Linked DNA regions of Homo sapiens. The protein of the gene in region 1 purifies or fractionates together with the protein of each later gene. This does not show direct contact. Each region holds a gene or a part of one and is shown in the gene's direction. Other genes may lie near its edges.

Region 1 (7,025 bases):
GCCAGAAGCAGACCCACATCCACGCGGAGCCGCCGGGGCCCCAGCCTTGTTTTCCGTAGCGGAGGATGTGCTTCTGTTCACACAGGCCACAGGGCTGATCTTACAAACCACTTATAAAAAGCCGCGGGGGCGGGGGGAGGGGTAGCTGCACCAGGCCGACATGTTTCCTATTCAGAGAAAATCGCATCTTGTTTTTTAAACTGATAGGTGCTAACACGTTTTAACAACATGGATTGCAACGTCTTTCTTCAGCAAATCCGTATTAACCTCTCAGTAAACGTTTTGATCCTGTTTGAGGTTCAGTGTGGCTGCCTGTTCCTTCTCGTTGGATAGGGTTAGGGTTTGTTTTTTTGTTTTTTTTTTGAGACAGGGTTTCACTGTGTTACCCAGGCTGGAGTGCAGTGGCGTGACACAGCTCACTACAACTTTGACCTCCCGGGCTCAAGCGATCCTCCCACCTCAGCCTCCCAAGTAGCTGGGACTACAGGTGTGCACCAACATGCTCAGCTAATTTTTGCGTTTTGTGGTGATGGGATTTCGCTGTGTTGCCCAGGCTAGTCCCGAACTCCTGGCCTCAAGTGAGCCACTTGCCTCTGCTTCCCAAAGTGCTGGGATTACAGGTGTGAGCCACTGTGTCCGACCAGGGCTGGGATTTTTGTCCTGGGGTTCATGATTGGGCTTCAGGGGGTCATAATTCCCTGGAAAATGTACTTATAACATATGGAAAGCCAAGTGTGGTGGCACATGCCTGTAATCCTAGCACTTCGGGAGGCTGGGGCAGGAGAATAGCTTGAGGCCAGGAGTTTGAGACCAGCCTGGGCAAAATTGCGAGACTCTGTCTCTACAAAAAATTAAAAAAAAAAAAAAGTTAGCCAAGTGTGGTCCCAGCTACTTGAGAGGCTGAGGCAGGACGATCACCTGAGCCCAGTGAGGTCCAGGCTGCAGTGAGCTGTGATTGCACCACTGCACTCCAGCCTGGGCAACAGAGTGAGACCCTGTCTCTAAAGAACAACAAACACAAGCAAGCATATGGGGCTTGACTTTTTCTGAGGAGAGGCTCTGTGTGTGGCCTTCTCTGGGGTCCTGGACCTGAGAGCGTGGAGACCCGAGTGTGAGACAGCAGCTCTAGCCGGTCCAGCCTCCACTTTCACGATGGCACTTACGAGCACTGTCAGCCCTTCCCTGGCCTGGGTGGCCCCTCCACCCGCTCCAGGAAGAGCACCAGTGGCTGGGGCAGGGCCCCCCATGCCTTGGCAGGGCCACATTTGGAGGGTGGGCCAGCCGTGCTCTTGCAGCCACAGTGCCCCAGAGCCTGGGCGGGCTGCCAAGGTGTCCCGTCTTCCTTCTTGCTTCCTTCCAGGGCATTTGCCCATTTGCATGAGTTCCCAGCCATCCAGCCCTGGCCACATGGTCCCTGTGCCACCCCAAGCTGCCCCTGCTGCCTCCTCAGGTGCCCTGGCCCCTGCACACATGGGAGCCTAGGCCTCAAGGGGCCTCAGTGTTTTTCACTAGCCCCGCTCCAACCCTTCCTGGGCCTGTGTGCACCAGGTTACTGTGCTGGGAAGTTTCTACTGTGGCTTGTCTTGAATTTTTGTTCTGGAAGTCCTTGGTTTAAAATACAGCAAAACAGGCTGGGCGCGGTGGCTGACGCCTGTAATCCCAGCACTTTGGGAGGCCAAGGCGGGCAGATCACGAGGTCAGGAGATCGAGACCATCCTGGCTAACACGGTGAAACCCCGTCTCTACTAAAAATACAAAAAATTAGCTGGGCGTGGTGGCGGGTGCCTGTAGTCCCAGCTACTTGGGAGGCTGAGGCAGGAGAATGGTATGAACCCGGGAGGCGGAGCTGGCAGTGAGCCGAGATGGCAACACTACACTCCAGCCTGGGTGACAGAGCGAGACTCTGTTTCAAAAAAATAAATAAATAAAATACAGCAAAACAAAAGCCCAAAGGAGCAGTTCTGGCACCAAGTTGTCTGAGGCTCTGTTTCTAGGGTTAGCGTGTTTGGGCATCTGAGGTGTGCTGTGTGGTGCTGCCCTGGCCCTGAAAGCCACCAGCTGCCCCTGAAGGTCTCACATCCCTGGACAGCGCCCATCCCGGTCCAGGCTTAGAGCTCACACAGTTGCTCTGGAAGCAGACATTTGAGAAGTGAGGTCTTTATGGTTCCCGGCTTTGTGGAAGAAGTTACAGGCACCTCTGCCCTCAAGGAAGCGGGTCTAGAAGGGGAGGTCGGGCCGTGCTGGGTGGCCTGTCGGCCTGTGGATTCGGAACACTGAGGCAGGAAGTACGTAAGGGCCCGGGTCCAGCCCCAGGATGGGGAGGTGGTAGCTGTGGTGCCTGCCCGTCAGAGGTCTTTGCAAGTGTAGCAGGACCGTCTTCCGCCATGACACACATTGATTATGTATGTACTTGCTCATGGGAGAAAACTGGTGAGTTTGGAATGGTTTAAGGAAGAGCTAAACTCACAAGCACATCCCAGCCTCAGTTCTCCGTGCAGCCTCAGAGGTGCTGCAGGCCCCGGGAGACAGCCCTGTGGATGGAGGGAGGAGCCGAGGGGAGCCTGGGGTCATTGCCGGGTTCAGCCTGGAGGACTGACCTGAGGCCAGCCCACCTCAGAGAAGCCCCTCGTGTGGACTTGGCCAGGGGCCAGGGGTTGCTATTGGGGTCCTCTGTGGGTCCTGCCCTCTCGGTCCTTGGAGGGCAGAGACAGGGGCTGTGCTGTGAGGGATCAGGGCCAGCCCCCCAAGGCCTCCTCTAGCTGGCGTGGCCGAGGGTGCCCGTGAGTGGGTACAAGGGCCACCTCTCCCCATCCCTGGCCATGTCTGAGGTCTGGTTCTGCACAGCACAGGTGTCCACACCCACCCTCAGCGGAAGCCCACCTGGGGCCACATGTCCCCAGCAGTGTGTGGTAGTTCCCTCAGGCCTTGAGGCCAGTGCTGAGACCCTCCAGGAACCCAGCACCTCGCGTCCTGCCACATGGGCCCTCTTCAGGGTGCTGCCCCATCTCCCTGCCGGGCCCAGCACAGGGCACAGCACGACTGCCCTCCCTGGCAGCCACACCTCCTCCTCTGACCATAAGTGCTCATCTCTCTTCTTGCATGTCTCAGTCGACCTTGAAACAGCCTGAGAGTGGGGGAGTTGCCTCCTTTACACGTTCCTGGAGTCAGGGTCGGGCTGAGGGGTCAGGGACTGAGGGGGTCAGGGGCTGAGGGGGTGTCCACGCAGCCAGGCTGAGGTGTGGGCCCACCTGCCCGGCTGGCAGCCCCAACCCCGGCCCGTCCCTGTACGGCTGGGTACAGGAAGAGCTCTGTGAGCTCCAGTCCAATGCGGGGCCCTCAGCCTGTCCTGCAGGGAGGTTTGGAGGAAGCCAGGCTTTTAGGCAGAGGCCGGTGGTGTGACCCCCGTGAGAAGTGTGTCAACCCAGGGGGCCTCTGGTGGGGGTGCTTGGACACACAGTGTAGACGCTGAGACTGGCCCACCTAGGGGCTGGGTTTGCGGGGGAGGGGCACTGCCGCCCTCGTGCCAGCATCCCCTTGGGACAGGGCTGCCTTGGTGCCACCTGCAGTTCTGCTGTGTGGCTCTGATAGGAGCTGGGGCTCAAGGTCTGAGCACTCCTGTCTGCGCACCTCCCCCACCAGGAGTCTCTGCCTGTGCAGACACTCGGAGGGCCCGGGAGGCTGTGCCCCCCCAACCCCAACCGGGCCCTGCTCACCCCCGCACCCCCCCCACCCACCAGGCCCTGCTCACCCCCTGGCCCCCCTCCCAACCTCCACCGGGCCCTGCTCACCCCCTGCCCCGCCCCCCCCACCTCCACCAGGCCCTGCTCACCCCCTGCCCCCTCTTCCAACCTCCACCTGGCCCTGCTCACCACCTGCCCCCCCCACCTCCACCAGGCCCTGCTCACCCCCTGCCCCGCCCCCCAACCCACCAGGCCCTGCTCACCCCCTGCCCTGCCTCTGCAGGTCCACAGCAAGGACAAGAAGTATGTGTGCAAGGTGTGCAGCCGCGTCTTCATGTCCGCCGCCAGCGTGGGCATCAGGCATGGCTCCAGGCGCCACGGTGTGTGCACCGACTGTGCTGGCCGCGGCATGGCCGGGCCCCTGGACCATGGCGGCGGAGGCGGCGAGGGCTCTCCAGAGGCGCTGTTCCCAGGCGACGGGCCCTATCTGGAGGACCCTGAGGACCCACGAGGGGAGGCGGAGGAGCTGGGCGAGGACGACGAGGGCCTGGCCCCTGAGGATGCGCTGTTGGCGGACGACAAGGATGAGGAAGACTCGCCGCGGCCGCGCAGCCCCCCAGGAGGCCCTGACAAGGACTTCGCCTGGCTCTCCTAGGCCCGCCCGCCGGCAGGGTCGGTGGCTGCCTCGCTCCGTCCACCCGTGTGTGTGTCCGGTGGGTCTCCACTGCGGGGCCAGGGCCACGCTCACCCCTCTCGCGGCCCCTCCTCTGCTTCCCCCTGAACCCACCCCCCACGGAAACCAGCCCTGCGGGCTAAGCAGGTGCGACCCCAGCAAGAGGGGTGCTCTGGGACCAGACATGAAGTGAGTTGGGGGAGGGCACAGGGTGGGTTTGAGTGAAGGGAGAGCACGGTCCTAAGTCCCCAGCAGGTGGTGCGGGTGTGTGAGTGGCCCCTGTGATGGCCAGCCTGGCTTGGACACGTGATGGGCCTGTGGCCGGGTCCAGTGGGCACTGGGCGGGGTGGTGTGTTCGGCCCAGAGGCCCCTGGCCTGAGCAGGTGCAGAGTTTTACAGACACCCGGTCAGCCCGGCTGGAGCCCGCCCTCCCCTCCCCTAGCAGCCAGGTCACTGCCTGTGGCTGCAGCCGTGGCCCGTGGTGCAGCCGTGGCCCATGGCAGCCTGTAGAATCCAGGTGCACAGAGAGCCCTGCCACCGTCTTACCTCTGGGCTTTGGTGCTTAACACACAACACAGCTGCAGACCCTGCTGGAGGCCGAGGGCTCCAGGTGCTATCTTAGGTGGACACAGCCCTGGGGGCTCCTTCCAGGAGGGGACCCTCAGCCCTGTGCCCCCCACCACTTCAGGCCACACCAGGTTCCCTCTGCAAGGGCCTCGGCTCAGTCGTGTGCACTTCCTCGGAGAGCCTTGGGCTGCCACGTCCACCCCGGGCTCTGCCCGTCCTGTTCTGCCCATGGCCCAGCCCGGCCGCTCCTGCTGACCCCTCCTGGACGGGCTGGAGCTGGGCTCCTGCCTTTGCTGCTAACACTGGAGGCGGTGTTCCTAACTGCAGTGTGCTGCTTACACCTCCCCGCGTGGGTAACCAAATTTTTAAGTAGTCAGAGACATATCGAGGTAGTTACATAAAATTATTTTGTTTGGCATTATTTTTCTCACTCGAAGAAACTATATAGGGTTGTTTTTCCTTTAGCTTGTGCTCAAGTCCTCTTGCTGTGTTTTCAGAAGCACTCACATGTTCTTTCTTTTCCTGAGTGAAAAGCAAAGGTCCCACGGTGTGTGCTGTGGTGCACCGCCTGGCTTTGGGGGTCCCGGAGGCAGGCTGCCTAGACTCACAGCCTCGGGACCGTTGCCACGGCCTGTCTTCTCGTTCAGGCCTGCCTCTGACAGCACTCACCATGAGGACATTCCATCCTTCACCCCCTCCTCTGGCACAGGCCACCACTGCGGTGCTGTGCCTTCAGATGGGAGGTGGGCGCGGTGGCCTCCTCCTTCCCTCCAGGACCTGCCCGTGTGAAGACCCCCCGGAGTGCTGAGCTTCAGGGCTGCGTGGAAAGAGTTTTTACTCTCTTTTTCTAGCCTGTATACCAGGCTTTTCCCCACATTGTCAGGTAGAGCACCAGCTTCCCTGACCGCTGCTGCTCGGGGAGGGCTGGGGCTGGCCGGGGGTCCTGTGGAGGAGTACATGGAGGACTCCAGGTACAGCGCAGGAGTCACGGCTTTTGTTTTTTGACATTGGCCCCCGGTTCTACCAATGACAGGGTGCCCTGGCTGGAGCTGTCATCACACACACCCCTCAGCTCGGAGGCTGTGGGCTCCTCAAAGCTGGAGAAAGAGGCCAAGATTTTTCTGCACACGGAGTGTGGGGATAGGAGCCGGGCCAAGCGCTGGCCCCTCAGCGGTGAGCCCTGCCCACTCTTACCGAGCAAGGTGGGTGGCTCTGGCACGAGTCCCCCAGGGGGAGAGCATGGCTACCAGGGAGCTGCAGCGGAGCCCTCCAGCCCTCACCCCAGGCCAGCCCCACCCCGGCCTCTTTGAGAATTCTCAGAACTTTGTACCTTTCCCCTGATTTTTAAACCCTTTTTCTAAACAGACTGACTTTCTTACAAAATGCATTTGGAAACCAGACCTTTGCTACCCACCAATGTCTCTGGGTTTTGTACCAGTCCCTGCTCTCAGGCCACCCTGCCCAGGACCCAGGCCCGCCTCCCCCTCCACACTCAGGATGTCCTGCTCCATCTGGCCGGCTCACTCCGTGTGGCCTGCCTTTGCTGACCGTTTTGGGGTTCCCCGCCGGAGCTACAGGGGCATTTTCTTCCCTAAAACCAACAGTGTCCCACTGACCTCCCCAAGTGTTTGCTGCGTGGCAGATTTCCTGTTCTTGTTCGCAGTTTGCCGACTGAAGAGTGTGGGATTTCCGAGGCCCAGGTGAGCACGTCCATCTCAGGAGGCGTGGAGGGAAAAGACATGTCATGAAGGGTTTTTTTTATGTGACTGATTTTTTTTTAAATCGATGTTCAAACTAATAAATATTTTTTTATGAAGAGGAAAAATGTGTAGATTACATTTCACATTTTGTATTTTTGTTTGTGTCTGTTTGTATTTTGGTGTTTACAACACCAAAGTGGGAAATACAGTCCATTGGGGATGGTGTTATTTGGGGGCGGGGAGGGGGCAGGGACACCACGATTTTTCTGTCAAGCTCTGGATCCTGACCAGGTTGTACACTGGGGCTCTCTGAGCTTTGGGACACAGGACACTGCCAGGGCTACGTAGGGAACTGACTCAGAAGACGCAGCTTACTGCTTCCAACTTTGCACATCTTCCTCTTTA
Region 2 (7,025 bases), on another chromosome or scaffold:
GTGTCTTCAGCTTGTGGTGCTGCTTTTCACCTGAGTGGCCCCATCTCCCCCACTGCCCTCTAGGGTGGCCTCTACAAGGTGCGCACCCTATCTTGCTCATCACATTTTTCCTGCTGTTCTCCTCATGGCGAGCGTCTGGCATGCGAGGTGCATGCCAGAGAAGACCTCACAAGGAAGGTGATTCTTGGGCAATTCAGGCAGAAGACCAAGAAGGTATTAGAGGAACAGCAAATAATTAATGTATATACGTATTGAGTTAATGAATGTTGGCTGGTGCCTGGAGACGGGATTGGAGAGCCAGCCAGGGTTTGAGCTGATCTGAACTTGACCTCCATGTCACAGGCAGAGGGGTCCCCGCTTCCCCTTTCCCTGGCCAGCTCTGATTTTGTGTGCTGTTTTCCTGTCATGAGAGTGAATGATAGGAGTAGTCGGGCCCTGTGGAAAGAGGACTCTGAGCCAACAGCCAAGGCTCTTGACCCTGACTCTGCCTCTTAGCAGCTGCATGAGTGGAGGCCACTGGCCATGGAGCCTCAGTTTCCACAGCGGACAGTTGAAGGGCTGGATTTTCAGCTGAAATATCATTAAAGCTGCGTGAGTGGAGGCCACTAGCCACGGAGCCTCAGTTTCCTCAGCTGACGCTTGAAGGGGCGGATTTTGAGCTGAAATATCGTTAAAGCCTGTTTCAGCTCCAAATTTGCGTCTTTCTGACCAGTTTCTTAAGTTTTCCTCCTTTAGCCTGGGCAATATAGTGAGACCCCTGTCTTTTCAAAAGAGAAAAAAGAATTAGCCAGGCGTGGTGGCACGCACCTGTGGTCCCAGTTACTCAGTGGGCTGAGGTGAGAGCATTGTCTGAGCCCTGGAGGTTGAGGCTGCCATGAACTCGGATTGCGCCACTGCACTCCAGCCTGGGCAGCCTGAGGAGCAGATTGAGACCCTGCCTCAAAAAAAAAGTTTTTCCCCTCCAAGACCTGGTGCCAGCCGGGTGCGGTGGCTCACGCTTGTAATCCCAGCACTTTGGGAGGCTGAGGTGGGCGGATCACCTGAGGTCAGGAGTTCAAGACCAGCCTAGCCAACATAGGGAAACACTGTTTCCACAAAAATACAAACATTAGCTGGGCGTGGTGGCATGCACCTGTAGTCCCAGCTACTCCGGGGGCTGAGGCGGAAGAATCGCTTGAACCCAGGAGGCGGAGCTTGCAGTGAGCTGAGATTGTGCCATTGCACTCCAGCCTGGGTGACAGAGCGAGACTCTGTCTCAAAAAAAAAAAAAAAAAAAAAAAGCCCTGTGCCAAGTATCTGAGGTAGCGGACAGGGAGCATGTGGACACTAGGATGCTCTGTTTTCACTTCAAGTAACCCACTCCCAGCAGACTGGCTTGGGGCATTACTCCTCTTAGCATAGGCAGCAATGAATATGCTCCAGGATTTGAAAAGGTGCCTCGTGTCAAGCTCTGCCCCTCAAAGTTGTAGCTTTTGTGGCTCAGGTAGTGAACTAACTTAATGTCTCCTAAAATTAACTTCATCCTTTCTGATTGACGTCAACCCAGCGGCCACTGCATTTGGTCAGCATGCATTCAGTGTGTGAGAGTTAATAAACTGTTTCTTTTTTTTTAAATTGGCATTAAAAAAATTCTAGTCCTTTTATTTAGTCCCAGTTTTAGAATTTTTTTTTTTTTGAGACGGAGTTGCGCTCTGTCGCCCAGGCTGGAGTGCAGTGGCGCGATCTCGGCTCACTGCAAGCTCCGCCTCCCGGGTTCACACCATTCTGCTGCCTCAGCCTCCCGAGTAGCTGGGACTACAGGTGCACGCCACCACGCCCGGCTAATTTTTTGTATTTTTAGTAGAGACGGGGTTTCACCGTGTTAGCCAGGATGGTCTCGGTCTCCTGACCTCGTGATCCACCGGCCTCGGCCTCCCAAAGTGCTGGGATTACAGGCGTGAGCCACTGTGCCTGGTGCCCTACCTTTCTTAATGTGGACATCTTGCATAACTACAGGACATATTCAACACCAGGAAACAGACACTGGTACACACCACCAGGCATATTCAGATTTCGTTAGATCGACATGCACGTGTGTGTGTGTGGTTCTATGCAGTTTAGCACCTGTAGCTTTGTGTAACCGGTTCCCTACCTCAGTCAAGATACAGAACTATACCATCATCACAAAGCTACCCCTTATAGCCATACTCCTGAAACTAATCTGTTCTCCATCTCTGTAATTTTGTGGGCTCAAGGATGTCATATAAAGGGAATCACATCATATGTGATCTTTTGAGATTGCTTTTTTCCCCCTCAGTACAGTCCCATCGAGGTCCATTCAGGCTGGTGCATTGATTGACATTGTATTTGAGCAAAAGATACCGAGAAAACAAAATAACTGCTGAAATTGGGGAAACAAGACCATAATTATTTGCTATTTATTCAGTTATTTTGGAACTTTCGTTTGTTTTTACACAAATGACATATCTGCAGAGGAGAGTTGTATCTAACTTAGTGAATGCATGTCTTTATGCATTGCTGTTGACATGCCAACACTAGAATATTGTTGGAGAGACACAGCACTGCTGAAAATGTTGTCAGGCTCTGAGAATTGACTGCAAAACAATCAGGACTGCAAGGAAAGGGAAGAAGTGATAAGTCCTTTTGAGACCGGTCAGTTTGCCAGGAAAACAACTTCAGGCAGGAAATGACCATTTTTATTTCTCTACATGTGGTGCTGGTGTGGTGCAGATGCTTGGAGGCGTTTTCTTTAACCCCCCCAGGTCCTCACATGAAGGGGAAACAGATGGAGAGATGTTATTAGCAAGATGGCAAAAATGAATTTCCATGGTCTTGAAGAAAGTGATACAGTTTTGCTGCAGGTTTCACGATAAATTAGAAAAATTATCAGTGCTCTGCTCATTGTGGTTGGCATAAAACTTGGTCCCTTCCATTTCTTGTTTTTTTTTTTTTTTTTTTGAGGCAGAGTCTCCCTCTGTCACCCAGGCTGGAGTGCAGCGGTGTGATCTCGGCTCACTGCAACCTCTGCCTCCTGGGTCCAAGTGATTCTTGTGCCTCAGCCTCCTGAGTAGCTGGGGCTCCGCCACCACCACGCCCGGCTAATTTTTTGTATTTTTTAGTAGAGACAGGGTTTCACTGTATTAGCCAGGATGATCTCGATCTCCTGACCTCGTGAGCCACCACGCCCGGCCAGGTTCAAGTGATTCTTGTGCCTCAGTCTCCCGAGTAGCTGGGATTACAGGTGTCTGCCACCACGCCTAGCTAATTTTTGTGGAGACGTGGTTTCACCAAGTTGGTCAGGCTGGTCTCGAACTCTTGGCCTCAAGTGATCCACCTGCCTCGGCCTCCCAAAGTGCTGGGATTACAGGCGTGAGCCCCTGTGCCTGGCCATTTCTGTTAACTTTCTTGAAATTAGATACCCTTTGAATTGTGTTTCAGTGGGACTAAAGTTAAATTTTATTTGTTCATGCAATTCCAGTTATGGAGTCATAAATTAGATATGGAGAAACTGAACACTAAATTTTAAACTCTGCTTAAACTTCAGTATAAAAATTAAACATAAAGTTATACTGATTTTCGTGCAGACGAGTGAAGATCAGCATCAGAATTGGTCAGTCTGCTTTTGCATTTCTTAAATAACCTTCACAGTTAAAAGCTCATTTTGTCCTTTTGACTGTACATTCCTAAAAAGTGCTGACTCTTAGAAAAGAATGCTCTCCTTGCATGTCTTCTTTTGCATGCTTCTGCATAATGTGTGTTCCTTAGAAACCAGTTTAGGAAATGTGTCATGGTGGCTATGGAGAGAAGGAAGGAAGTCCTTGCTCGGGTTGAATTTTTCTTGCCAAGGTTGGTGGTCACTGCTTCTGGGACACCCTGGTTCTCTTCACAGTGTTTTCCGTCTGGCTCCTCTGAAGGTCAGGATCACTTTCTTTTATGACAAGTTGAAGTGTCCTGGTGGTGAACATATTTTGTGCCAGATACTTACTATTACTTCTCTTTCCTCTTAAAATGAACTGTTACTTTTGGTAACAATCTGTGTCAAGATTTTGTAGTAGAAGAGTTCCTGGAAAGGCTGTCAGTGAAGGATTAAATGGCATTTCCTTGGCTCTTAAAAAAATCAAATACGCCGGGCGCTGCGGTTCACGCCTGTAATCCCAGCACTTCGGGAGTCCGAGCCAGGTGGATCACCTGAGGTCGGGAGTTCGAGACCAGCCTGACCAACATGGAAAAACATGTCTCTACTAAAAATACAAAATTAGCCAGGTGTGGTGGCACGTGTCTGTAATCCCAGGTACTTGGGAGGCTGAGGCAGGAGAATCACTTGAATTTGGGAGGCGGAGGTTGCAGTAAGCCAAGATTGCGCCACTGCACTATAGCCAGGGCGACAAAGTAAGACTCCGTCTCAAAAACAAACAAACAAAAAACCCCAGAAATGAACAGTTTTTACCAGGCCACATGATGTCCCAGACTTAGATTATAAAACCACATTTGCTGATTCTGGCAGCATGTTCCTTCTTCAGAACCTTCCTGACTTTAGCTTGAAAGCTGAGCTGGTTGAAACGTCTTGAAAAGCAGTATGTGCAGTTTTGTCACGAGAGAATTTCCGGGTGGGTGGGATAGGTTGAGGTGGGTGTTCCCGTGTAGAAGTGGGGGCTGAAGCTGTGTGGTAAGATGAGCTCTGTGCTTGGGACAGGGTTGTAAGGGTCTGGCCAAGACGCATAGAAGAAATAGCATGTGAGTAGGAAGCAGCCCTATTTTAAATAGCGCCCTGGAGACTTGAATTGGGAAGAGGACCAAGAAGAGTGTGAGGCAGTGAGATGCCCAGCACCAGGGTGGGAGAGGCGAGTTCCAGTGACTCGTGGGCACTCAGGAGCGGGGATGACCCCAGAGACACAGGGAGCTTGGAACCATGCTTCTGTATTCAGACATGACTTTCTGCCAGCTTTGCACGCTTTTTCCTGAAACATTGTTGGCAGAGGGGAACTTGTATCTTCTGTTCAGTTGATTCTCGATTTTAAACGTTTGTTGCCTTTTGGAGCCTGCACTTCCCCTTACCTGGTGATTGGAGTGTGGGAATGGTTGGGGGTATCAAGGCTTCAGCAGGCTGGGAAGGTGGCAGGAGCACAGGGTGCCAGGGGTGGGCTGAGGGGCTGGTGGGTGCTCCGGGATTTTAGGAGGAGTGCTGTGCCCACAGCTGCTGTGTGTCCCTGAGGCCAGGGAAGTCCTGACTCCCATGCTAGGTTCTTTCTGCCCCATGTAGCTCCCTCAGCGCCCCCACCCCGATACCTCAGGAAACTCCAGGTCGAAACTCCAGGTCGAGTGGCAGACCTCCTGCTGGGTGCGTTCTTAGGAATAACACTTCTAGCCGGGGGTTTGGGTCAGATCCTGATTCTACTCTCCTTTGTTTCCCACTTTTAAATTTTTTATATTTATATTTAAAATTTAGAGACAGGGTCTCACTATGTTGCCCAGGATGGTCTTGAACTCCTTGGCTCAAGTGATCCTCCCCCATCAGCCTCCCAGAGTGCTGGGATTTATAGGTGTGAGCCACTGCGCCCAGCCCTTTCCCACCTTTTCAAATTGTAGCCCTGTCGAGAGCCTGGAGTCTTCATCTTTGCCTGAAATTCAGACTCCGAGTTGTGATGGTTTTGTGTTCATCTCTGTGCTTGGCTTCAGGATACTCCCCATTTACCTTTCTTCTCACCCACCCTAAGCTTTGGTGTCTGTCTACGGGTTTGCTTAGAAGTGTAGAGACCAACAGCCAACATGGGGTGCCTGGCTTTTGTTTTTGCGTTGTGGGGTGTTTTTCTTACCTTTAAAATCCCTCTGATGGCAGCACAAGGGTGTAATGAGGATTAGTTATTTAGCATATCTAAAGAACTTTGAGCTCCTTAGGGCAGGCGGCACTGTATTAGGATTTATGTTTTGCTTTTTCTGTGGACCGCCTTTGTGTTTCATGTAATGTAGCTGAAATAGCAAGTACGTGTTTCTTTTCTTTTCTTTTTTTTTTTTGGAGATGGAGTCTCATTCTCTCACCCAGGCTGGAGTGCAGTGGCGCAATCTTGGTTAACCGCAGCCTCTGTCTCCTGGGTTCAAGCGATTCTCCTGCCTCAGCCTCCGGAGTAGCTGGGATTACAGGAGCGCACCACCATGCCCGGCTAATTTTTGTATTTTTGGTAGAGATGGGGTTTCACCATTTTTTTTTTTTTGAGACTGAGTCTTCCTCTGTTGCCAGGCTAGAGTGCAGTGGTGCGATCTCTGCTCACTGCAACCTCTGCCTCCCAGGTTCAAGTGATTCTCCTGCCTCAGCCTCCCGAGCAGCTTGGACTACAGATGCGCGCACCACCATGCCCGGCTAATTTTTGTATTTTTTTTAGTAGAGACGGACTTTCACCATGTTGACCAGAATGGTCTTGATCTCTTGACCTTGTGATCCGCTAGCCTCGGCCTCCCAAAATGCTGGGATTACAGGTGTGAGCCACCGCGCCCAGCTGGGGTTTCACCATTTTGGCCAGGCTATTCTCAAACTCCTGACCTCAAGCAATCCACCCACCTCGGCCTCTCAAAGTGCTGGGATTACAGGCATGAGCCACTGTGCCTGGGCGGTTTTGAATTTTTAGTAGAGACAGAGTTTCGCCGTGTTGGCCAGGCTGGTCTTGAACTCCTGACCTCAAGTGATGCGCCTGCCTTGGGCCCCCAAAGTGTTGAGATTACAAGTGTGAGCCACTGTGCCCGGCCAGTTTTTTTTTTTTTTTTTTTTTTGAGATAGAGTCTCGCTGTGTTGCCCAGGCTAGAGTGCAGTGGTGTGATCTCGGCTTACTGCAACCTTCGCCTCCCGGGTTCAAACAATTCTCTGTCTCAGCGTCCTGAGTAGCTGGGATTGCAGGCACCTGGCTAATTTTTTGTATTTTTAGTAGAGACGGAGTTTCACCATCTTGGCCAGGCTGGTCTTGAACTCCCGACCTCGTGATCCACCCGCCTTGGCCTCCCAAAGTGCTGGGAATTACAGGCGTGAGCCACTGCGC
Region 3 (7,025 bases), on another chromosome or scaffold:
GTTCATGCTATAATCTAATTAGTATATTGTTTATTGTGGAACATTTAATTAAAAAATGGAAAATACGTTTTTATTTTTAGCAAAAGTTTAAATTTATTGCTTTTTCTCTTACAGGTCACTGATGAATTGTTGGAAAAAATTGCATCAAGAAGTCAGAATATAATTGAAATCAACATTTCTGATTGTCGCAGTATGTCTGATAATGGCGTATGTGTTTTAGCATTTAAATGTCCTGGACTTCTTAGGTATACAGCCTACAGGTGTAAACAGCTTTCTGACACCTCTATTATTGCGGTTGCCTCTCACTGTCCTTTACTTCAGAAAGTGCATGTAGGCAACCAGGACAAACTCACTGATGAAGGACTCAAGCAGGTAAATTTTAGCATTTATAAAGTGATTTTACTTGAATTAATTAAAAATGTTTTCTAGCAACAACATTTTAAATGGTTACGTTAAAAATAGTTCCCAGAGACTCAAGTGAATCATCTTTTTTACCTATTAATGAATATTTGTTTAGATTAGTTAACTAGAGTGCCATGGTTATAATCAGTAAATTAACTGCTTTGTTTTATAGTGAGAGCCTGAACTTCTGTGACCAGCCATTTTATAAATTTATGCTTTTGTTACTTAAATTTTTTACCACATTTTGCTTTGGGCAACTGCGTAGTTTTGGTCAGCATGAGGTTTTAAAAATTAACATTTTAATTCCCCTTTTATTATACTAGATGACATACATGCTTAAATATCTGAATGTTTAAGGGATAAATGGACGTCCAAATTGAAGATTATAAAAGTTAGAACAAAGGCCTAATTACCTCTATTTGGTACAATAACTGGGTTAAAAATAGTATTATGCATACCTTCTGTTTATTATACTTCCTTTGGAAATGGCATTTAAGGTTTCTTGGCTCGGAGTGGATTATTTATTCAACAGATGAATATCCTTAAATTTAAACCTTATGTATGAATTAACTGAAAGCTTGGTATGAAAAGAAATTTGGGAAGACTCTATCCTAAATAGTGAGTACTGGGTGTGTCAGTACAACTTATATATTAAGAATGTTACCAACTTATAAGGGAGCCTATTTTGTTTGCAAAGGCATATTGTGCAAAAAGTCTTATTTGTTTTAATATTTTTCTTGATTCATTTCTGCTATGTACAGGATTATTTACTAGCAAAGCATTTCATGAAGTTCTTAAACATATTAAATTAATCTTTTATGAAGAAATATATATTTTGTGTATATAGCATGATTTTATTTACTTTGATGGAAATTTCTCAGCAATTTATTTTTCACAATGAAACATTTTAAAAAGGTGTATGTATTAAGAACTGGATTAAATCTATTTCATATTTAATTCTGATATAACACAAATAGGTAGTAGTTTAGCAGACTTCTTAGGGTATACCTAGTAATTTTTGTGAAAAAGAATAAGATCGTAGTCATGGTTGAAGTAGAGAAGGAGCAACATTTAATATGCTAATCAAGTATTATGAATTTATCTTATATTTACAACTTTGAGAGTAATTATGTAAATCTTCTCTAGAATGTGAGGTATTTTGGAGCCTGTTACTTAGATGTTTCCTTCGGATATTTATGGTTTCTGAATTATGAATTAGTTACACGTGAGGTAATATTCTGATAAAAGTAGCAAAACAAATTTTTTTCCCCTTAGGTAGTTTTCTTCTTAAGTAATTACATAGGATCTCATTGCAGTGTAGAGAATATTTTTCTGTACTTAAGACCGCTATAGCTGGGTATGTCTGATTTCATAATAGACTCTTTCCTCTGATGGAATAGTGTTATGGGTATAGTAGAAAGAGAATGGCTTTCATATATACATAAAATAGAAATTAAGTTTTATGAAACAATACACATCCTTATGTGCAATGCACATGGATATTATCTATTCTGTTCTATACTATTATGTTAAATGTTGGCCTTGACCCACTCACTAAATTAATTTTATGACCTAGTGATATTTCATAAATCCGAATATGGATTTATATTATGGTTTTAGTAAACTGACAGTGCTATGTTAAAATGTATAATAGAGTTACGAAAGCCTAAGAGGGAACTAGCCATAATTGATGATTTGCCTGGGACTGTTATTTTTTCTTGAACTCATTAATTTAGCAATTGACTGAATTGTTGATTCTACAGATTAAGTTGTTGCAGGGTTCTGTTTTTTCCCTCTTCTGTCAGTAAAAATTGAGAAATGTTTTAGAATGATATATGTAAATTTTATTGATAATTTCTTTAGAATATATTTTCTTTATAACTGCTATAATTTTGATTGACTTTAGCGGATACCAAATATGTGTGCCTTTTGAATTCTGTCAGTTTGTTTACAAAAACAGTTGCTTATAGCATTTCAATTTGGAGCTCTAATAGATGTAGACTCTAATGTTTTAACTATTGGATTCTGCTTAACAATATTTCTTAAGCATGGTGAAGCACCTAAAAAAATCAGGCTGGTTTTGGTTGAATACTATCCTCTTTGTGAAATACCACCCTGAAATATTTATATTTTTATTTTCATAATAGTCACTCAAAATAATTTTACCAGTGGAATGTGTTCCTATTGTATATATCTTTTAAAACTACAATCATGTATCTAGAGGAAAAATCTATTTAAGAATAAAGGGCTGTTTCAATTTTCCTAATATTTTGTTATCATCTAGCACTTGCCAGTAAACAAACGATAATAGTAGTCAAAGTATTAAAATATATCTAAGAAATTGTATGCATTGTTACTATATTATGTGACTCAATTATATGCAGTTTTAGCAGTTTAACACTCCAGCTCATGGAGCTCAGTAGAAATTTCTGTAAATAAGTCACTGTAGGCTTTTTTCAGATAAAATGGTACAAAAATAATAAATGTTACATTAGTAAATTTTGATCTGGCTATGCTATCAATTTTTAGGTCTTTAAAAATAACTACTTAGAGTACTATCAGCAAAATGTTGGAGCAGGCAGCTCCAAAAGCCTGCCTCTCCAAAAAAACATTGAAAAACAAGCCTAAACTATCAGATCCAACTTTGTCAGAACTCTGGAAACGTCAAAGGTTTATAGCAACCAAAGGAATGCTAGACAAGAAAAATGCAACTGAAAGGTGGAAAGAATGCTTTGTGGGTTTTTTACTTGCCTGTGCCTCACCCATTCCCCAGCTTGGCAACAGTCTTGAAGATAGCAGTCCGAGTTCCCAGTGTGGGACCCAGATCCCTGGTTCCAGAGGGAACAGAGCAGACCTTATTTGCAAATTATTCATTTGTCTGATCAACCTACCTGAGAGCTATTTGAAGGGCTGATGCAGGTGCTTATATATCTGTTTTACCTAATTTAGAACCCAGTCAGGGAGGAAAATTAGTGGGCATTGATTGAACACAGTATAAGGCAAATGAAAGAAACTTGCTTTTGAGCAAGCTTCTTTGGGCAATAGATTATGGTGAGACATACAATTGACCTAGGAGAAAGAGCCTGGGAGAGAGTTTGTTTTTATTTTTGTTTTTGTTTTGAAATTAGGACAATCAGCCTCAGTGTATAGAAGGGAATTTTGAAAGCCGCATGCATGCCCAGGGCAGGACACTTGTTCAGGAACGACCTAAGAAGACTGTAAACTTTATCACTGTGTGCTTGCTAGGTCCAGTACAAGCAGGAAGTAAAGGCCAAGGCAGAGTTGTGAATGGTATGGCTAAGTCTTAAAGAAATATCCCAGCACAGAGCCAGTCTGCAAAGACTTGAATAAGTGCTTTTGTTTTTTGTTTTAGTTTTGTTTTTAAGCTTTGGCATCCAAGGAAATCTCTTTCAAAACACTGGCTGAACACAAGCTAAGCCTTGATTAATCAAAAATAGTGAAGCGTAGGGAAGTGGGGAGAATCTAATTTCCCAAGTTACCACATTATAATCTAATATTTTAATATTTAGTTTTCAACAATAAATTACAAGGCATGCAAAGAAAAAAGTATTACCCATTAAAACAAAAAAGAATAAATAGAACCCATTCTTGAGGAAGCCTGGACATTGGATTTACTAAAGATTTTACTAAAGATTTTAAATCCATTATCTGAAATATGCTCAAAGACATAAAGGAAACCATGGCCAAAGAAATGAAGGAAATTAGGAAAATAATGTATGAACAAATTGAGAATGTCAATGAAGAGCTAGAAATTATGGAAAGAACCAAATAGAAATTCTGGAGCTAAGAAGTACAATAACTGAAATAAAACATTTACCAGAGGGATTCAAGAGCCGAAGTGAGCAGGTGGAAGAAAGAAGATAGGACAATTGAATTTATTGAGTCTAAGAAAGAGAAAGAAAAAAGAGTGAAGAAAAGTAAGTAGAGCCTAAGAGATGGGTGGGACATCCATCAAGCAGAAAAACATTCACATTTTGCTAATTCCAGAAGGAAAGGAGAAATAAAAGGGGCAGGAAGAATATTTGCAGAAATAATGGCCCAAACTTCCGAAATTTGGTGGAAGATACGCATCTATACGTCCAAGAAACTCAATAAATTCAGGGAGGATAATGTCAAAGAGATATACACTGAGACACATTATAGTATAATTGTCAGAAGTCAAAGACAGAATCTTCAAAGCAGCAAAAGATAAGTGACTCATCACATACAAGCACTCCTCAATAAGATTTACAACTGTTTTATCATCAGAAACTATGGAAGCCAGAAAGCTGTGGGCTAACAATATTTAAAGTGTCGAAAGAAAAAAAAGTCAAGCAAGAATTCTGTATTTGTCAAAACTGTTAAAGAATAGGGGCACTCAAGGGGACATTAAGATATTTCCAGATAAGCAAAAGCTAAAGGAGTTTGTTACTAATAGATCTGCCCTACAAGAAATGCTAACGGGAGTCCTCCAGGCTGAAATAAGATGCTAGATGGTAATTGAAAGCCATATGAAGAATAAAGAAAACTGATGAAAGTAACTACATAGAGGTTGAAAGGATGGAAAAAGATATTCCACACCAGAAGAGAGCTATAATAGCTGTTTTATTATCCAAAAAAACCAGGTTTTAAGTCCAAAAGGGATCCAAGAGACAGAATTATTATATATTGATAAATATAAAATATTAATCTTTCAGGAAGATGTAGCAATTATAACCACATATGTACCTAACAACAGAATCCTTAAAATATATATAGCAAAAATTGAAAGACTTGGAGAGAGGAATAGACAGTTGTACATTAATCATTTGAGACTTAAGTAATTCACTTTCAATAATGAATAGCACAACTAGGAAGAAGATTAACAAAGAAGCAGAGGATGAACAGTACCATGAACCCACTGCACCTAGCAGATATGTACAGTACACTCAACAACAAAAGAATACACATTCTTCTCAAGTGCACATGGAACAGTCTCACAGATAGACCATATGTTTGATCACAAAACAAGTTTTATACATTTAAAAAAGATTGAAATCATACAGTGTGTCTTCCCTAACCATAATGGAATGAATCTGGAAATCAATAATAGAAGGAAAATTGGAAAATACACAGATATGTAGAAATTAAATAACAGAGTCTTGTACAACCAATGGCTTATAGAAGAAATTACAAGGGAAATTAGAAAATATCTTGAGATGAGTGAGAATGAAAACACAGCGTTCCAAAACTCAAGGGATGTAGCAAAAGCAGTGCTCAGAGGGCAGTTTATAGCTGTACAATCTTACATTAAAAAAGAAGATCTGAAAGCAGTAATCAAAGCGTACACCTTGAGAAAGAAGAGCAGGCTAAACCCAAAGTTCGTGGAGGGAAGGAAATAATAACCAGACCAGAGATAAACATGATAGAGGACAGAAAAGCTATGGAAAAAAATTATTGAAAACCAAACTAGGTTCTTCGAAAAGATTTTAAAAAACTCTGACAAACCTTTAACTAGATTGACTAAGAAAAAAGACTCAAATTATTAAATCATAAATGAAAGAGTAGACATTACTACTGACTTTATAGAAATTAAAAAGGATTGTATGAGAAAACCATGAATAACTGCATACCAACAAATTGGATAGGCTAGAAGAAATGGAAAAATTTCTAGAAATACAGAAACCAGAAAAACTGACCCAAGAAGTAGAAATTCTGAGTTCCAGCTACTCATGAGCCTGAGGCAGGAGGATTGCTTGAGCCCAGGAGGCTGAAGCTATATTCACTGCACTCCAGCTAGGGCAATATAGCAAGACCCCATCTCTTAACAAAAAAAGAAAAAGGTAGAAAATTGGAATATATTTATAATAAATAAGGAGATTGAATCAGTTAAAAAAATTTCCAATGAAGAAAGACTAAGGACCATAGCTTTGATGGTGAATGTTTTCAAATATTTAAAGAAGAATTAACACCAGTCCTTCTCAAACTCTTTCAAAAAAATTGAAGAGGAGGCAACACTTCTTAACTTATTCTGTGGGGCTAGCATTAGCCAGCCCAAGACCCTACAAAAATGAAACTACAAAACAAACAACAGCTACAGACAAGTATCTTTAACGAGTATGTAAAAATCTTCAAAATGCTAGCAAACTGAATTCAGCACCAGATTAAAAGGATTCTACACCGTAACCTACTATGATTTATCCAAGGAGTACAAGGGTGGCTCAACATACAAATATCAATCAATGTAATATACCACATTAAGAGAATGAAAGGAAAAAAAAACCAGTCATCTTAATTGGTGTGCAAAAGCATTTGGTGAAATAAGCAGCCTTTCTTGAAAAAGCAAAGCAAAACAAAAACCTATCAAACTAGGAATAGAGTGATGCTTCCTCATCATAATAAAGACCATATGTGACAAACCCACAGCTGACATATTCAGTGATAAAAGGTGGAAAACTTTTTCCTTAAGATCAAGAATAAGACAAGAATGCCTGCTTTTGGCAATCCTGTTTTACATTGTGCTGAAAGTTCTAAGGAGCAATTTGGCAAGAAAAAGAAATAAAATGCTTCCAAATTGGAAAGGAAGAAGTAAAACTATTTGTATTCGAAGATGACATTATTTTATGAATAGAAAACCCCAGAGA
Region 4 (7,157 bases), on another chromosome or scaffold:
CACCCGCTGCACCCTCCCTTGTGCATTTCAACAGGTGCCACTGTCCCCTACTTTGCAGAGGGCTCCGGGGGGCCAGTGCCCACTACCAGCACCTTGATTCTTCCTCCAGAGTACAGTTCTTGGGGCTACCCCTATGGTGAGTCGACAGCCAGGGCTTGGCAGGGAGGGGACGCCAAGAGCCCCACGCAGACCCTGCTTTCTTCCCGCAGAGGCCCCACCGTCTTATGAGCAGAGCTGCGGCGGCGTGGAACCCAGCCTGACCCCTGAGAGCTGACCCCGTGCTGCCTTCTCCAGGCAGGCCTGGCCTCTGCCCTGGGACTGGGGCGCCCAGGGCCTCGTGCCTTCTCTCTTGGCCTAGCCTGGCCCACTCAGGACCTGCCCAGCCTCTGCCAGCTCCTCTGGCATCCGCCCTCTTCTCCCTGGGGCTGGGGTGGGGGTGGCAGGGAGCTGGGACCTGGAGAGACAACTCCTGTAAATAAAACACTTTATTTGTAGAGCTGGGCCTCACCGGCCTCGCCTTGGGCACCCTCCAGCCTCTGGCAGGGCCTGACCCTGACCCCATCCTGGGCTCTGCTCATGCCAGGGCAGACCCTGCTCCTCAGGTGCCCCCTACTACCCTGGGGGCGCGCTCAGGCTACCATGCCTGGGCGGAGCCGCGGGGCTGGCTCCCTTTAACAGAGGACGGGGGCTGGCGCTGGGCCTTCCAGAGCCGCCTAAGGACACGTCCTTGGAGCCCGGCTCATGAAATGGGGCCTCACGCAACCTTGGTGTTTGGTTAAATTTGTGCCTTGGCTCCTGTTGCGTTTAGGCACCCAGGTTCCCAAGCGGTGTGGTGTGGACCTCCCCTGCTGAGAAACCCGCTGGCGCGTGGAGGGGCTTGCCCAGGTCCCTCCGACAGGAGACCCTGCTCCCTGGGCCTTGGCCCCTGCTAGCACCACTGCCAGGCCTGGCTCTGAGGGACGCTGCTTCTCCCCTGCCCACGTCTCCAAGGCCTGAAAGGCAGGGTTCTGTGGAACAGCATTTCTCAAAGGGGCATCCTGCAGACGTTCCAGCCCCAGGGGAGGCCCCGTGATGCTGGCTGGCCTGCCTGGAGGGTGCTTCCAGAAACAACGGAGATGGTGGTGAAGAAGGCTCTGGGTTCAAATTCCAGTTCTCCTTTAGGGCGAAGGGGTGACTGTGGCTAGGTTTGTCAGTTACCTTATCTATAAAATGCACAGGACCAGGCCGGGCACGGTGGCTCCCTCCTGTAATCCCAGTACTTTGGGAGGCTGAGGCAGGTGGATTGCTTGAGGTCAGGAGTTCCAGATCAGCCTGGGCAACATAGTGAAACTCCATCTGTACAAAAAAAAAAAAAAAAAAAAAATAGCTGGGCATCATGGCACATGCTTGTAATCCCAATTACTCAGGAGGCTGAGGCAGGAGAATCGCTTGAACCCAGGTGGCAGAGGTTACAGTGATCTGAGATTGTGCCACTGTACTCCGGCCTGGGTGACAGAGCAAGACTGCCTCAAAAAATAAAAAAACAAAACCCCACAAAAAACTCGTGGGACTGTAGGGTACAGCCCCCCACCCTCATAGCATGACAGTTTATTTCTTGAACAGTCCAGAGGGGGCAGATCCTGGCCTTGTGGCAGAGTTGTCATTCCTACATAGTGGTTCCCATCCCTGGCTCCCAGATGGCTGTTGACAGCTTTCACCACTGCCCAGCCTAATGGTGGGACTTTTGAGGGACAGACTGGGAAATGGATTGTCACTTTTTGTCTCTGACCTGTCCCCTTCCTGTTGGAAATGTGGTCTTTAGCCAGGCAGTCCTGTACTTGGCTAAAATTTTACTAATTGTGGGACAGGCAGCATGAATATTGGAGAACAGCAGAAAGTGTACCACAGGTGGGGTCATCTGTGAAGCGCCTCCTGGAAGCAGTGCAGTATATGGTTGAAAGGAAGGCCTCCTGGGCTGAATCCCATCACTGCCTCTCACCACTCCCTTGCTTCAGTTCAGTCACTTATAAAATGTGGGTAAGAACAGTGCCTGCCTCTCAGGACTGACCTGAAGTCTGCAGTGTTAGCATGTCACGTGCTGAGAGCAGCATCTTGACATAAGTGCTGAGGGGCACACAAGGGTAGCAGCTGATGGAAAAATGGAGTGAAAAAGCTGCCTGCAGCTGCTTCCCACACCTTCACTTAGGGTGGATGTTTGCTTGGTGAAGGATTTTTCTTCACATTCTAACTCCCTTTATTCAGTCAACAATTTTTTTGTTGTTGTTGTTGAGACAGAGTCTTGCTCTGTTGCCCAGGCTGGAGTGCAGTGGCACAATCTCAGCTCATTGCAAGCTCTGCCTCCCGGGTTCATGCCATTCTCCTGCCTCAGCCTCCCGAGTAGCTGGGACTACAGGCGCCCAGCACCACTCCCGGCTATTTTTTGTATTTTTAGTAGAGATGGGGTTTCACCATGTTAGCCAGGCTGGTCTCCATCTCCTGACCTCATGATCTGCCCACCTCGGCCTCCCAAAGTGCTGGGATTACAGGCGTGAGCCACCGCACCCGGCCCAGTCAACAAATATTTTGTCTCCTGTACACCAGGTATTGTTCTAGGCACCATGGACTTACATTCTAGTAGGGAGACAATATTCCAAATCAGGATGTGGGAGAGTCACATGACACACACTGTGATGGAGCCAAGTAAGTCAACGAAGACAGGTATGGGGGGGCAGTATCATTTTAACTAGGGAGGAGAGGGAAGGCTTCCCTTAAGAGGTGATATTTCAACTCAAGGATGGTAAAGAGGGAAGCCACAAAGACACTCGAAATAAAGGTTTCAGGGAAGGGACAGACAGCAGGGGTGGCGGAGAGGTGGGTGCGGGGCAGGAGGGCCATGAAGGCGCTCGTGTCTCCTGCGAGGGCTCAGGGTGCTCGGCCTGTCATAAATGGACTTAGGCTTTGACAGAGCAGTTTAGCTGCCCTAAAGAAACCTGGGAAGGTTCCCTTGGCACTTGGGATTGTCCGTTTCCTTTTCTGTCTATGTGCGCTGTCTATGCTGGACTTGAGATAATTCTCCGGAGTCCGACTCACCAGGAGACTCGGGTGTCACCCAGATTGACCTTCAAGGCTCATTTCTTGTCAGTCCAGTACCCGTCCCCTCGGTTCACACGACCATCCAGAAACCTCAAATTCAGTCCATGCTTCTTGTTTTGGGTCTCGGGGCTGGGATAAGGCGGGCTGACCACCGCGGGGCATGTAGGTAGTTTCCGTGGTGCTGGGGGCGCTCTCCAGGGAAGGCTACTTGGTCTGCAGAAAAGGCCTTGACTTGTGCATACCTGGGCAGCGGGCCTATGAGTGGCAGCGAGAGCGGGGTAACCAGAGAGGGCACACCCCCCAACCGGAGCGCCCCCCAGGTTGGCATCTCCACAACTGTAGAACCTCCCCCATCAGGGCAACCCTCCCGATTGGGACACCGCCCCCAGCCAGACACATCCTCCTAGCAGAACACCCATGCTTAGCCGGAGCCGCTCCCCCGCCAGACACCTCCCCACCGGGAAACCCTCCCCAGTGGGACACCCCAGCCAGTCCAGGTATTCCCGCCGTTAGGGACACCCCCTCCAGCCGGAGCATACCCTCGGCAGGGGCATTCCTCCCAACCGAGGGAACCCCGCCGCAACGGGAACCTGCCTGAACCAGAGCACCCTCCCGCGCCGGGGACACCCCACAGGCGGCTCCCGCGCCAGGCCGCGGCCCAGGGAGTCAGCCTTCCGCGCAAGCCGGCGAAATCAAAGTGCGTCCGGGGTTAGAGGTCAGAGGTCGGAGCCGCGGGTCTTTCTCCTTCTTCGGCCAGCCCACCAAAACGTCAATTTAGAATGAGACATGTGTTGAAAATGGGACGGCTACTCCCCATCCACTACTACGACTCTGGCGGGCGGGTTCTCCAGCTCCAGGTCTCCTACCCCGCGGGCGCGCGTTCCGGTTCCGGCCGCCGCAGGCCCGGCGCCTGGGGCGCCGCACGCCTGGTTCCAGTGCGCAGGCGCCGCACCGGTCGAGCTCCAACGCGCAGGCGCGGGCGCAGGCGCAGGCGCAGACGTAGGCGATCGGCCCCGCCCCGACTCTGGGCCGCGAGGCGCGGGCGGGGCGATGGCGCGCGGGAGGGGCGGGGCCACGCTGCGGGCCCGGGCCATGGCCGCCGCCGATGCCGAGGTGAGCAGCGGGGCCGGCGGGGGGCGGCGCGGGGGCGGCGGGCAGCGGCGGAGGCGGCGCGGGGGCGAAGAACCGGGCGGGGCGGCGGCAGGCGGCCGGCGGGCGGGCGGGGCCCCGGGTCCCCCCGCCGCCGCCGCCGCCGCTGCCGCCGCCTCAGGCCGAGGCCGGGCCGAGGCCGCCGGGCGTCCGGCCCGCGCTCCCGCCGGGCGCGCTTTGTGCGCGGCGCGGGCCGGGCGGCGGCTGGGGGAGCGGGCGGGGGCGCAGGTGAGGGAGGCGACCGCGTACCTGTGCCCGCGCCCCCCACGGACCCCGTGCCGCCGCCGCCGCCCGCAAGCCGGATCTGCGGGGAGGGCCTCGGCCAGGGTGCCGGGGAGGTGCGGAGGACAAAAGGAAAAGTAGCGGGGCCGGCCAACTTTGGAGCGCCGGCCGAGGCGAGGCTGTCCCTCCTCTCGGAGCTCTTCCTTCGCTTCGTTGACCTTTCACTTTGTTCTGAGTAGGATGGCACCATCTTTAACGAAAAGTTGGCCAGTCCCGGCGTGTTTCTCCCCAGACAATGCTGCTCCAGCCCTGCTGGCTGTCAGAAGCAGGAAAGCACGCTCGGTGGGAAGCTTGCGGACTCAAGTTTATTTCCAAACCAGCAGCTTTAAAGGGCTCTCGATGTAAAAAGTTCACATTCTTTTGTTAATGGTCTCGGCCTTCCCCGTGCTCATTCTCAAGGATAGTTTGTTTCCTTGCTTAGGAAAGGAAGCAGCGTAGAGATTAAAGTCTTGCGAGTGGACCACTGGCGTCCCTCTGAAGGAAAAGCAAGCAGGAGGTGGTGTGTCCGTGGAGATGCAGAAATAGTGTGGTCCTAGGGCTGAGATAAGGGACCGGTTTGGAGAAAACTGTCAGCGTAGAAGTATTTCTTTGAAATTAACTGTCTAGTAACAGTTGAGACTTCTAAAGCTTAGAAAGTTAAGGTGTAGTAAGAAGCCGTACAGTATCCTGGTGCATAGACTTAACACTGTATTTTAACTCAGGTAATGTATGGCCTTTTTGTTTATTTTTTTCCTGCATTTTTGGGGGGTGTTGAAATAAGTAAACTGGGAAGGTGCAGGGGAATTCTTAAATTCAATGCAAGGAGTTTTTGCTGAGTATCTGCAGCATTCAAGGAATTAATATTAGTCACTGAGAACAAAAAGCGAAATTAGAAAATTTCAAGTCACTTCTAGGCTTGTAGGGGAGAAGACGTGTAGTGATGAATTCTATCATTTATGAAGTACCCACTGGATCCCACACACTGTGCAAGACCTTTAGATCAGGCGCCTCCCTCGGTTTTCTTCACCCTGTGCAGCAGGTGCTGTTATTTCCTTTTTTAAATTATTATTTATTATTATTATTTTTTGAGACAGGATCTCCCTTTGTCACTCAGGCTGGAATGCAGAGGCATGATCACTGCTCACTGCAGCTTCGACCACCCAGGCTCAAAGGAGTCTCCCACCTCGGGTGCTGCCACACCTGGCCAATTTTTTTGTATTTTTTTGGTAGAGACCGGGGTTTCACCATGTTGCCCAGGCTGGTCTTGAACTTTTGGACTCCAGCGATCTGCCTGCCTCCGCCTCCCTAAGTGCTAGGATTACAGACATGAGCCATTGTGCCCGTCCTGTTGTTTCCTGTTTAGCTGAGGAGGAAGGGTTAGATAACTTGGCCAGTCGGTTGTAGGACCAGCACTAGTACAGTGTTGGGCACGTAGTAGGTGTTTAATACATGACCGATGAGCAAATGGCTCCAGATGTCTCTGGTTCCATAGGCAGCCTTGAATAGGGCTTTACACACCTGATGAGAATGACAGCCTGTGTTGACTGAGCCCTGACTTGTGTCCAACCCTGCCATAGTGCCAGTGCCTTGCATGAATTCAATAATTTGAGCCTAGCAGCAACCTTAAGAGGTAGGTACTGTTACCTCCCCGTTTATAAATGAGAAGACAGGCGCAGTGAGGCCCAAGATTGAAGAGCTTGTGGCCAAGAAGATGGAGTTGCAGGTGGTTTGGCCATAGAGCTGATGCTTGCTAAATGTGTTATATCTGTGATGGTCATTTTAGGTTAATAAAAGCTCTGTTTTTAGATTGATAATTCTAAGGGTTTATCATCAAGGTGTATGAGAAGGTGAGGGAGCCCCTGTGTGTAGCGCAGCAACTCTGGCCTTCTGGACAGTAGGTAGGCATGTGATCACTGTTGTCACTAAACCTGGGAAATGATTCCTGGGTCAGGGTTCATTAATTGCCAAATGATTAAAGTAATAAAGCTGACACTGGAAACTTATCTAACTTCATTTCTTTTCCTTGATTTACAAAGATAGTCAATACATTTTCCTACCAAAAAGAACTGGCCAGCCGTGGTGGCTCATGCCTGTAATCCTAGCAGTTTAGGAAGCCGAGGTGGGCGGATCACTTGAGGTCAGGAGTTCGAGACCAGTCTGGCCAACATGGTTGAAACCCTGTCTCTACTGAAAATACAAAAATTATCTGGGCATAGTGGTGTGTGCCTGTAATTGCAGCCTGGGCAACGGAGTGAGAGACTGTCTCAGGAAAAAAAAAAGAAAAAAAACTACTGAGGTAGTTGAATATATCCTCCATTCCCCATTTGTGGATTAGTTAGTAAATGGGGCATCTTAGGGTTTAAATATGTCCAGGGTCACTGAGGATCAGATCCTAGGGTTCCTTTGACTCAAGGCTTTTGTCTCAGCAAAACGTCACCTTCCAGCAGGAAGGCTTTCTCAGGCAAGTAGCAGGGTGGCTACTATGTATCGCTTCTTTATTTTTTCTTTTTTAAAATAATGCAGGCACGTGCGCATAATTTAAAAAATCAGTGCTAAAACCCTTAAAAAAAAAAGCTGTTCTCATCTCCTGTCTTTCTTTTTTTTTTCTTTTTATTTTTTTCTTTTATTATTATTATACTTTAAGTTTTAGGGTACATGTGCACAACGTGCAGGTT

The links.
Region 2: the proteins of ZBTB46 (region 1) and AP2A2 purify together in Homo sapiens (affinity purification with mass spectrometry; 3 studies listed by BioGRID and IntAct, with this or other methods). This does not show direct contact.
Region 3: the proteins of ZBTB46 (region 1) and FBXL17 purify together in Homo sapiens (affinity purification with mass spectrometry; 3 studies listed by BioGRID and IntAct, with this or other methods). This does not show direct contact.
Region 4: the proteins of ZBTB46 (region 1) and EHMT1 purify together in Homo sapiens (affinity purification with mass spectrometry; 3 studies listed by BioGRID and IntAct, with this or other methods). This does not show direct contact.

Annotation. Positions count from the first base shown.
Region 1 is NC_000020.11:63,744,240-63,751,264, reverse strand, and holds part of ZBTB46 (zinc finger and BTB domain-containing protein 46), read left to right. Parts: intron 1-3,963; coding exon 3,964-4,335; 3' UTR 4,336-7,025. UniProt on the Homo sapiens protein: Functions as a transcriptional repressor for PRDM1.
Region 2 is NC_000011.10:928,864-935,888, forward strand, and holds part of AP2A2 (AP-2 complex subunit alpha-2), read left to right. Parts: intron 1-4,661; exon of another isoform or gene 4,662-4,734; intron 4,735-7,025. UniProt on the Homo sapiens protein: Component of the adaptor protein complex 2 (AP-2). Adaptor protein complexes function in protein transport via transport vesicles in different membrane traffic pathways.
Region 3 is NC_000005.10:108,358,085-108,365,109, reverse strand, and holds part of FBXL17 (F-box/LRR-repeat protein 17), read left to right. Parts: intron 1-114; coding exon 115-372; intron 373-7,025. UniProt on the Homo sapiens protein: Substrate-recognition component of the SCF(FBXL17) E3 ubiquitin ligase complex, a key component of a quality control pathway required to ensure functional dimerization of BTB domain-containing proteins (dimerization quality control, DQC).
Region 4 is NC_000009.12:137,614,865-137,622,021, forward strand, and holds the start of EHMT1 (histone-lysine N-methyltransferase EHMT1), read left to right. Parts: upstream 1-4,140; 5' UTR 4,141-4,164; coding exon 4,165-4,185; intron 4,186-7,157. Other genes in the region: ARRDC1 (arrestin domain-containing protein 1), read left to right, coding at 1-228. UniProt on the Homo sapiens protein: Histone methyltransferase that specifically mono- and dimethylates 'Lys-9' of histone H3 (H3K9me1 and H3K9me2, respectively) in euchromatin.